Linked DNA regions of Homo sapiens: region 2 is linked to region 1. Evidence: fine-mapped expression QTL. Tissue or cell type: whole blood. Region 1 holds a variant in brackets; the other region holds the start of a gene. All regions are shown on one strand. Distances are between the middles of the regions.

Region 1 (5,389 bases):
TTATTTGGATATAAGTAACATTTAATGGAAAATATATTTATAACAATATAAACAAGTTATATGACAGGCTTTAGCAAATATTAATAACAAAAAGAGTAACAACAACAAATAACCTACACTTACCCTATGCCTTTTCTTGAGTTCTAAAGCCCATGTGGGCTGCTTAGTAATGATAGCTCAACTCTGCTTCTAATCTGGGTTACAACACTCATGTTAAAACCTCTTAGTACCTTTCCTTCTTGTGACAGACCGAGTTGTTTAGTCAGTAAACTTATCTTGAACTACATTCTAATCCTGAAAACTCACAAGTGCTTTCGTTCTCTTTGTTAGAAGATAAAAGCTTGCATTGTTTGTACCTCTTCTCAGTTCTGAGCTACCTTTAATGATCTCTCTCTTCTGCAAGTTAAGTAGGGAAAAAAAAGGTTATACAAGTATATGTTGTTCTAGCTTCTTTAGCATGATTTTCCCCTTAATCTTTGACATTCATGATTTGCTCTCTTCTAAAGTGTTAAGCTTCTTTAATACAAAATTTAATTTAAAATTTTGCTAAACCAGGATCTATCAACATTTTGTAATTTGTTCTTGTCAAAGAGTTTCTCAGAAAAGAAGTCAAATATTGTGCTTCTTCTGAACATTCAGAACTCAGTATTTCAGAACTCATCTTCTCTGTTTGAGAACAGTCTCTAAACAGAGGCAGTATAATATTTGCCTCATACTTGAATTCTTTGCACAAGATTCTTCCAGTAATATAAGGACAAATAATATTGCAATATGACTACTGGTGTATGCATAAGGAATTTAAGACTAATTAGATGAGTCTGTTTTAGTTTTTCTTGTTAACTAAAGGAACTACTGATCTGGCCATCCTAGAATCTGGTTCTTATTGCTTGATCCTTTTTTTACATTTTTCTCATTTGTAGAAATTAAAAGTAAATGTGATTTCTGCCATCTTTTTCCTCAATATTACATACTTTCTTGAAAATCTTTTCCATGATTTTCTTGAAAATCACCTCACAAGTTGATTTGAAAGAGTCCTTGAGCTGAATTAAAGCAAACAAAATGATTTTGACTAATCATTGAAGTTTTTATTTGACATAAATTTTGACATGCTATAGCCAAAAGAACTATAAATTTATTTGTCCACATTTGTCATTGCTGCTCTTTGCTAGCCTTGAAATTTCATAGCTCTGTTAAAAACTCACTGTCTAAAGTAGATATACTTCTATTGCCAACTTCTTATCCATTCTTATCTAGAACTAAATGTAGAGTGAGCACATTCAGTACTAGGTATACAATATTTTTCATTGCTATTTTAAGCAGGCCTGTTTGTTTTTTTGTCTAGTTCATTGCCAAGCGCTTTTTCAGACTATTTAGACCAAGAAATCTTAAAATACCATAGTGTCTTTTTGTAATCATAATGCTCCTCTTTGAAAGGAAAAAATAATCTGACATAGATTTTGCACAGTTTTGAATTTATTTTGTTTGTGATAGATTTGGATCTGCCTCACCCAAGGTTTTAGCCTGATTTCCCTTCACAGTTGAAAGCCCCATTTGTGAAACCATTTTCATTATTGTATAAGTTTCCTCTTGTTGCTGTAACAAATTACTACAGATTTAATGGTTTAAAACAACACACATTTATTATATTACAATTCTGAAGGTTAGAAGTTCAACATAGATCTTACTGGGCTAAAATCAAGGTATTGGCACTGTTGTGTTCCTGTCTGGAAGCTCTAGAAAATAATCCATTTTCTTGTCTTTTCCAGCTTCTAGAGGTTACCTTCATTTCTTGGCTTGTGGTCCCTCTATCTTCAAAGCCAACAATAGTGGGTTGAGTCCTTCTTACATCACCTTACTCCAACCTCCTCTTCTGCCTCCCTCTTCTATATTTGAGGACCCTTGACCTTGGCCCTGCCCAAAAAGTCCAGGATAATCCCCCTATTTTAAGGTCATCTGATTAGCAACCTTAATTCCATCACTACCTAAATTCTCCTTCACCATGTAAGATTACATATTCACAGGATCCAAGGAGTAGTATGTTGACATCTTTAGGGGCCTATTATGCTGCCTACCACAATTATGGTCTGCATTCATGAAACAAAGCAAAGCACAGTCCCTATAGTGTCAAGACCATGATCTTGACGTTAATATAGTTTATGCAGAGAGCCTTTTTTTGGCCTCTTAGTTATATCTTTTTTTTTTCTTTCTCTTTTTTCCTTTTTTTTTTTTTTTTTTTTTTTTGAGACAGGTTCTTACATGGTTGCCCGTGCTGGAGTGCAGTTGCACAATAATAGCTCACTGCAGCCTTGACTTCCTGGGCTCAAGCAATCTTCCCACATCAGCCTCCCAAGTAGCTTGGAATGTAGGCATGCATCACCATGCCTGGCTGAGTTTTTCGTTTTTTATAGAGACAGGGTCTTACTATGTTGCCCAGGTTGGTCTCAAACTCCTGGACTCAAGCAGTCCTCTCACCTAGACCTCCCAAGTGTTGGAATTACAAGTGTGAGCCATTGTGCCCGTCCAGTTATATAATTTCTTAACCAATAGTTACTCAGTTATCTGTTGACAGTATTAGTTATTATAATGACAGTGATTTAGTATCAAGTTATAGTTATTATTTTATCTTGAGAAAGGATATACTAGTATGGCAG[C/T]ACATTCTAATAGTTTGAGGATTATCAAACCATATATAGGATTAGTTTAGTCACTTCTCTTTAAAATAAGAAAATTAAGTAGTCTGAAACCTTTATCTTTTTTTTTCTGATTGAAGAAATACATTAATCTAAATCAGACTTTTTTGAAGCTGTAATTTGTATTTATTTTTCTCAGGGAAATTTAAAAATTGATTTTTTAATTATTATTTTTATTCCTTAAAACAACATTAAGGCTGGGCACAGTGGCTTATGCCTGTAATCCCAGCATTTTGAGAGGCCGAGGTAGGATTGCCTGAGCTCAGGAGTTCGAGACCAGCATGGGCAACATAGTGAAACCCCGTCCCTACAAAAATTAGCCGGGCATGGTGATACGCACCTTTAGTTTTAGCTACTTAGCGGGCTGAGGCAGAGGATCACTTGAGCCCGGGAGACTGAGCTGCAATGAGCCAACATTGCACCGCTGCACTCCAGCCTGAGTGACAGAGTGAGACCCCATCTTTTTTTTTTTTTGAGATGGAGTTCAACTATTATCACACAGGCTGGAGTGCAATGGTGTGATCTTGGCTGCCTGCAACCTCCGCCTCCTGGGTTCAAGCAATTCTCCTACCTCGGCCTCCTGAGTAGCTGGGATTACAGGCGCCCACCTCCACACCCAGCTAATATTTGTATTTTTAGTAGAGACGGGGTTTCACCATGTTGGCCAGGCTGGTCTCAAACTCCTGACATCAAGTGATCCACCCGCCTTGGCCTCCCAAAGTACTGGGATTACAGGCGTGAGCCACCATGCCTGGCTGAGACCCCTGGGATTATAGGCGTGAGCCACCATGCCTGGCTGAGACCCCATCTCTTTAAAAAAAAAACCTACATTAGAAATGGATATCAAAACTGCTGATTAATACCTTCCTGAAATGTCTTGAAAATATTTTAATTTCAAAGAAACTAAAGACTTATTCAGTCTTGTCAAAACCAAAATGATGCTTTCATCAAACAGATGTCATAATCATAACTAAATTAATGGAATGAGAAAAGATAAATACTTAGTGAAATGTACTGTGTAATGTAGCTGACTAGAAAAGACCTTTAATATGATATGTTTGCTTACTCCCCGCCTCTGTTTTGAGGGCAGAAAGTTTAATCATATTCTTTTCTGTATCCCTAACTCATGATTGTTTTAGATTAGTGTTGTCCAATAGATGAATAATAATACAAGAGCTATGTAATTTAAAATTTTCTAATAGCCACATTTTGAAAAGTACAGAAATAAATGAAAATAACCTTAATAATATATTTTATATAATCCAGTGTATCCAAAATATTACTTGTTCAACATGTAAGGCCACAAGAGTCTCTTTTCTGATCTCTTTACTGAAATTAAAGAGCATTTCTCTTAGCTCCAGTAGATTTAGACCATAGTAGGAGTTGAAACATATTTGACCTTTGCAAATGAATGAGAATTTTTTTTGTAAACAAACAGGCCTTTGACATATTCAGAGTGGTTTTCTATGTGTATAAAGTGATTTATGTAGAATTTGCTGTGTGTAGTCCTTGTTCTCTACAGTTTTATTACAATAAGTTACTTTAAAGGTTAACTTTTTTTAGAAGAAAAAGAGTGTGTGTGTGTGTGTGTGTGTGTGTTCGTGTGTGACTTATTTTACTTACATACAGAAGCTCTCTTAAAATCAAGTGAGGTTGGTATGTCCATTTGTTTCTAACCAGTGTAACTAGGAGGTACTCAAGTTCAAGGTCTCTGAATCCATTTCAGCAAATTAAAATGAAAATTTCTAAGAGCTTTACATCTAGGCATATTTTTCCCTATTGACATATGTTTACTAGACATATTTTTCTAAAGTAGTCCTACTTCATCTGTATGAAAAAACTTTTACAGACAGAAAACCTCCTTCATTAATCCTCTGAAAGAGTCTTTGGGCATTTCTTAAATGCCTATGGTAACTGCCATCACTGATAACTTTGTAGGAATGTACAGGCCTTGAACCTATGGAATTCTCCATGACTTAGTAGAAAATTTCATCAGCAACATGTTTACCCTATCTAACCTTTTAATGTTCTCTTATAAACTACCGCCTAGCCTTCTCTCGTATTAACAGTAGGGTAGTTGCAAACTTTGATGTTAAACCTCTAGCAACACATTCTGAAAGTGTTTCAATGTTATTGATCATGTTTTCTTCCCTCTTGCTGCTATTGGGTATAACACATCTCATGTGTTGCATGATTTTCGTTGTTGTTGTTGAGACAGAGTCTCGCTCTGTCACCTAGGCTGGAGTGCAATGGTGCGATCTCGCCTTACTGCAACCTCCACCTCCTGGGTTCAAGCAATTCTCTCACCTAAGCCTCCCCAGTAGCTGGGATTACAGGCACATGCCACCATGCCTGACTAATTTATGTATTTTTAGTAGAGATGGGGTTTCACCGTGTTAGCCAGGTTGGTCTCGAACTCCTAACCTTAAGTGATCTGCCCGCATTGGTTTCCCAAAGTGCTGGCATTACAGGCATGAGCCACTGCCTGGCTGCATGATTTTTATTTTATTTTATTTTTTTTTGTCTTTCAGAATTATGGGAGAATAAATGGCCATACAAGCCCAAGCCCACTTATGCCATCTTTTGGTAGAGAGAATAGCTTTGTGTGATCTGTTAAAGTTTATAAATTGAAAGTTGTTAAATGCATGAATTTCTGGGGTTGAAATAGGTTCAGTGAGCTATTTGTAATAATGTTATGAGGG
Region 2 (5,389 bases), 27 kb before region 1:
TGAAATTCCAAAAGCATTTTCCAATGGAAACACTGTTATAAATGGTGTCTCCTTTCCACCAATAGTACATCCAGGTAATAGGGAATAAATAGGCTTCTGCAGGCTGGCAAAGGCAACCTGGCTCATTTATAAGATTACACAAAAAAAGCCTATTCCAAGTTCCACACAACCTTCTTGTTGATTTCTTTTTCCTTCTTCAAACGTTCATTTAATATCTTTTTGCTGAACCTGCATTTCCTTCTGCCTGGAATTCACTGCTCTCCTTGAAAGTTCCTATCCGCCATTCAAAAACCAACTGAAAGGTCTTCAGTGAAGGTTTTCCTGAGAACTATCACACTTCTGTTAGGCCCCAAATACACATAAAAACCCTCTCCCATCTTCTATGTTCCGCAGCATTTTGGATCTATCTTTTCACTTATCTGTTTCCATCAGGGTTGGGTTTTTTCCTCCCCAACTTTTTATTATGAAAAATTTCAAATATTCGGAAAAGTTGAAAGAACAGTTTGTTAATCATCTATATGCCCACCATTATACTCACAATTGCCAACATTTTGCCATATTTGCTATTTATACACACAGACACATACACACACATACACTTGCTGTACCATTTGAAAGTACTAGATATCAACACACTTCAACTCTAAGTACGTTAGTATGTATCTGCTAAAAATAAGAACACCTTCCTACATAACCACAATTCCTTTTCCACGTGAGAAAATTAATAGTCCATAACATTGTCTATATTGTGGTTGCATGGGAGCTTTTAAAGAATGAGGACCTAATCTATATATTCCCACTACTTAACTTGGTTCATAGCACTTATTTGGGTAATCAACAGATGTTCTACCAATTGTTCAGTTTAATACCCTCACAACAACTACTCTGAAAGTCATATGAATTTAACATTTAAAACAGCAACCTTTGATTTTAAAATTTTCTGCAAATCAGTTTAGTCATTTGCTTTAAATAAACCTGTGCTGCAGTAAGTACAGTATTCTGGGTTCTGCACTACTTAATTCTGCATCACAATGCTCCATAAAGACAGAGATCATGTCTAACTTTTGTCAGACATATAAGTAGGTACACCAAAATTTTTTAAATGAATGGATACTTTCAGACACTGAAAATGTTAGTGAAGAAATTGAAATCGAGGAAGAACAGGACAGGACAATAGAATACAGATTTTGAAGGCAGACAGATCTGGTTTTTAACACAGATTCAAACGTTTACTTATAACAAATGTTTAATAGAGCAAGTTGCTTGACTGTTCAAAGCCTCCATTTCTAACTCTGTAAAATGGTGATAATAATCTAACATACCTCCTGGAATTGTTGAGAGGAATAAATGACAAACTATGTAAAGCACTCGGCACACATAAGACTCAGTTAATGGCAACTATCGTTATTATTTTATCTATCTGAGACAAAAAAATTATCTATTTCATTTAAGAATTCTCAATAGCAAAACAAAATCCTGTCCCAGTGTAGAGCGAGGATTTTACGTGCTAAGGTCAGCTATGCTTCCCACTTCCACAGTTAAGCCTTCCAGCAAGACAACTACTAGCCAAAGGACACCAAGAGTCGCAATCTCCCAGGAAGTGGTCAAGAACCTCGTGAATGAGATCCAGGGATCATCACCCTGGCCCCTTCTTCTTCAAGGCGCAGAAGGCTGCAACGACCTCCAAATGACTAGGTGCGGCAGTGCCCTGCAGCCTCGGTCCCTACTATGAAAAGCTGCAACACATGAGGCTTTTGTTATTTTAAAGTGGGTGTGGGGTTGACAGAGAGAGGGATAAAGACTAAGGCAGAAAATTTTTTAAAAAGCCACCTCTACCCACAGCAGTCCCATAACTCGAGGCTAATCACTTCAGTGGAGCCAGGCACAGCGTGGGGTAGAAGCTCAGCGGTTCCCTTTTAGCTGATCTTCAATTTCTGGCGTCTCGAACCCAAGAAATGAAAAAGGGAAGCCATGGGGGAGCAGGAGGAGAAATCAAGGCGCGAAAGGACCCTCAAAGCTGTACTGTCACTCCACGCCCAGGCTGTCATTCTCTCCAGCACAAGCCCCTCGGTGGAGCATGTGTTTAGGGTCTGCAGAGCACAGGAGACAAAGCAGAAGCCCAGCAGCCGCCTCAACCCTGGCATGATCAGGTTCCGCATCTCCGGTTCTCCTCCGGTTTTGGGCCCTCACCTGCCACGAATGCGGTCGTCACGCGAGCAGTTGTGAGATGGTCAAGCCCATTCAGGTCTAGGTTACCCCCTTTCATCCCGGAGGCAGGGGTGAGGTGTTTGTCAAGAGACTTCAGTTGTAGGCGTGGACGTAGGCTACTTCCTTCAGTAACAGCTATAGGGCCACATAAGGGAACCTCAGGCTACTACACCTCAGGAATCTCCGTCACGCCTCTTCCCCGCCCTCCTCGGGTCTCACGCCGAAACCTCACCGGGCGGAACGATTTCCGGCAAGAGCCAAATGATCAGTCCTAACCTTTCTGACCGTGGTTCCAAGGTTCCCCAAAGGACTGCCCTCTAAAGGACCCGGGTAGTTCCGCTTCCGGCAGCGCGAGATAAATCACGAGAGGAAGCTTAAATCTGTCGTTTGAATTTAGGACCACCTCGGTGAGTGGTCGTTCTGGTGTGCTGTGTCATACCTACTGTTTTTTAAAGTGAGGCGTAACCCGACAGTAATTTCAAAACCATTCGCCTCGACCGGCCTAAGGAAGGGTTTAATTGAGTCTGTGGGGAGATTTTGCGCAAGCGCCTTTGAGATAGGAGGGCCTTGGGCGTTGCGATGTCCCGCGCTAGCTGAGCAGAAAGGGCGAGTGCTGTTTCGGGCCTGGGGAGGTGCCTACTGGGTGTAATTGAGTTTTACCAAACGGTCATTTTCCTGCTGATTCTGAGTGTGGTTGGACCTTGCCCTTAAGATTCCGTTAACGAGTCGCCCAAAGCTTAGGAAATGCTCCCTCACAGCGTTTGAGACTAAGCACTTTTGGCCGGCGTTGAAGAATTCTCCCCATTACTTTGATCAGTCATTTAATCAGAAATTTTGCCCCAAATTTAAATACGTGGCGGGGAGAAACGTGAGGTCAAGAGGGAATCCTGTCACGTAGTTTTAAAAGAAAAATGTCCACTTTATCTCAGTGTAGGTTTTTCTTAAATGGGCATTTCTGAACCAAAGTAGATACTTTTTAAAGTGGAAATGCATTTATCCCATGTGGCTTCATGTGAATGCATATGGCGATGAAGGCATTTTTTTGTTCAATGAATTTGTACTCTGAAGTGAACCAGATTACAGAGAAGTGTATTTAAATTTACAGGTCCTTGACGTTGCATAAAATTGTGCGTGTCCATTTTTTGGAGCTTAAAATAGAATAATTCAAATGTCAGAATTCCGATCCAAGTTAACATGTTGATTGAAAATTGCAGATTTTAAGATGGAACCAGCGGGTATTATAACCTTTTAGGGGCTTAAATTGGTGGCTTTGTTTTTAACCCTTGGTGAAACAGTTAAGTCCTAATCTTGACATAATACCTAACTGCCTTACTTTATTGAACACAAAATTATTAAAGGAATTAAGCAATGAGTTGATTTTATTTGCTTTTATGGAGGGGACAAAGTGTATAAAGCTTAACCAAATGTGACCCTGACATTCCTCTTGCAAAACTACAAGTTGTAATCAATCACTTTCATTTTTTCTTATTCCTACATGTTTAAGTACATTAAGTAATGATTTTAAGAGAAATTCTTGAAAATATGAGCATATCCAAAGAAGTCCCAGGACAGTCTTTCTTTATGTAGTAGAAACCACTTAATCCCCCTTGTAAATGATACCTTTACTTAGCAATCAGAGTATAAGAAGATATTTATATTTGTCTCGAATATTACAGTTTCAAGCCATTTTCTCATATGTATGGGCTTTGAAAAAAAAAAAACAACTTTCATTTACGTTACTTTTGTATATGAATACCAATTATTAGCAGTAAAACTTTTAACTACTTCAAAGGCTATGCTTTTCGTGAACTGAGTTTTCTTTCTTACGCATTTTCTATTTCTCCTTGTCATCTGTCTCTCTACCTCCAGAACCAGCAGTTTGTGAACTGCATTAGACTGTTATATCGTTATAAAAGGATACAATTCGTGAGTCTTCTGATTATTTTCTTCTTAGCACTGAAGCTTTATAAACATTGCTATAAAACATTAACACCATTAATGAAAGGAAAGAGATTTTAAAATATTTTTTCATGTAGGTGAAGATTTTGGGAAAAGAAAGGGTTTTATGTTACTTTAAACAGCCTGATATGGATGATAATACTTAGATATGATAATAATTATACATTACCATATACAAAGGACTTTTAATCATCCTCGTAATTGCAAAAAAGGGATAGATATTATGTCCTTTTCCAAACATAGATACTAAGGCTTAAGTCTATACCTTCTTAGACACAGTTTACTTATAGTGCCATGTATGTGAAAGTGAACTGTAATGTTTTCAAAAGTGAAATAATTTACCTCTGGAATATTTGCTATAATTTTTAATTCTCCTTTCAGGAAATGCAGGTAATTCTTTATTCATTCACAAATAGTTGAGTGTCCACTGTGTTCTGAACATTATGTTAAACAATGTAAACATAAAAAATTAATAAACTCTTTCCATTCCTCATTTATAATCTAAATTATTGATTACAAAAATCACTTTATAATTTGTGTAACAGAGGCCTGAACCAAGTATTATAAAAGCTAAGGATAACAAGTAATTGACTTACTGGTATAGCAGGGGGGAAAAGCGTGAAATTTGAAGTAAGAGACACCAAGTTAAAAGTGTCAGCGCATGTACTCACTTTATTACCTTGAGTAAATTGGACAATCTCTGAACCTCCATTTTCCTACCTGTAAAATGGATATAAAACTAATACCTACTTCATGAAGTACTGTGAGGATTATCATAGTAAAATACTGCATAACTATTTGCAGCTGTAGTCGTGAGTCACTTAGCAATGGAATAAATTCTGAGAAATGCTTTGTTAGGCAGTTTCAGCATTGCACGAATACAGACTCTACCTACATGAACCTAGATGATATGTGTGTGTGTGTGTGTGTATATTTTTTTCTTCATATAGAGAACCAAATGTCCCTGCACATTATTGGGTATCATTTATTTCTCCTACTTGATCTGCAGTGCTAATATCAAATGACCTATATCAGGTTCTATATATGCTCTGCTATCATCTTACGGGACCAATAGGCAGTCCATCCTTGACCAAAACATTCTTATGCAGTGCAATTGCGTTGGCATTGTTTTTAAAATTTTTAATTTTTTAAAATTATTTCCTCTTCCTATACTTTTGGCTTTTCCAGATGTCATATAAACAGAAATATAAAATATATAGCC

The links.
Region 2: it holds the start of PPIP5K2, and the variant in region 1 is fine-mapped to the expression of PPIP5K2 in whole blood (TOPMed, PIP above 0.99).

Annotation. Positions count from the first base shown.
Region 1 is chr5:103,089,798-103,095,186 of GRCh38, reverse strand. The region is part of intron 7 of GIN1 (gypsy retrotransposon integrase 1); the gene reads left to right. Among named protein-coding and RNA genes, the nearest start is that of GIN1, 28 kb to the left of the region's middle. The variant C/T (reference allele first, on the strand shown) is at 2,652.
Region 2 is chr5:103,117,290-103,122,678 of GRCh38, reverse strand. PPIP5K2 (diphosphoinositol pentakisphosphate kinase 2) reads right to left here and starts at 2,378. Exons shown (of 31, transcript NM_001276277.3): 1 at 2,191-2,378. GIN1 (gypsy retrotransposon integrase 1) reads left to right here and starts at 2,541. Exons shown (of 8, transcript NM_017676.2): 1 at 2,541-2,615. RefSeq lists enhancers at 1,978-2,037, 2,088-2,277, 2,308-2,567, 2,403-2,903, 2,904-3,405.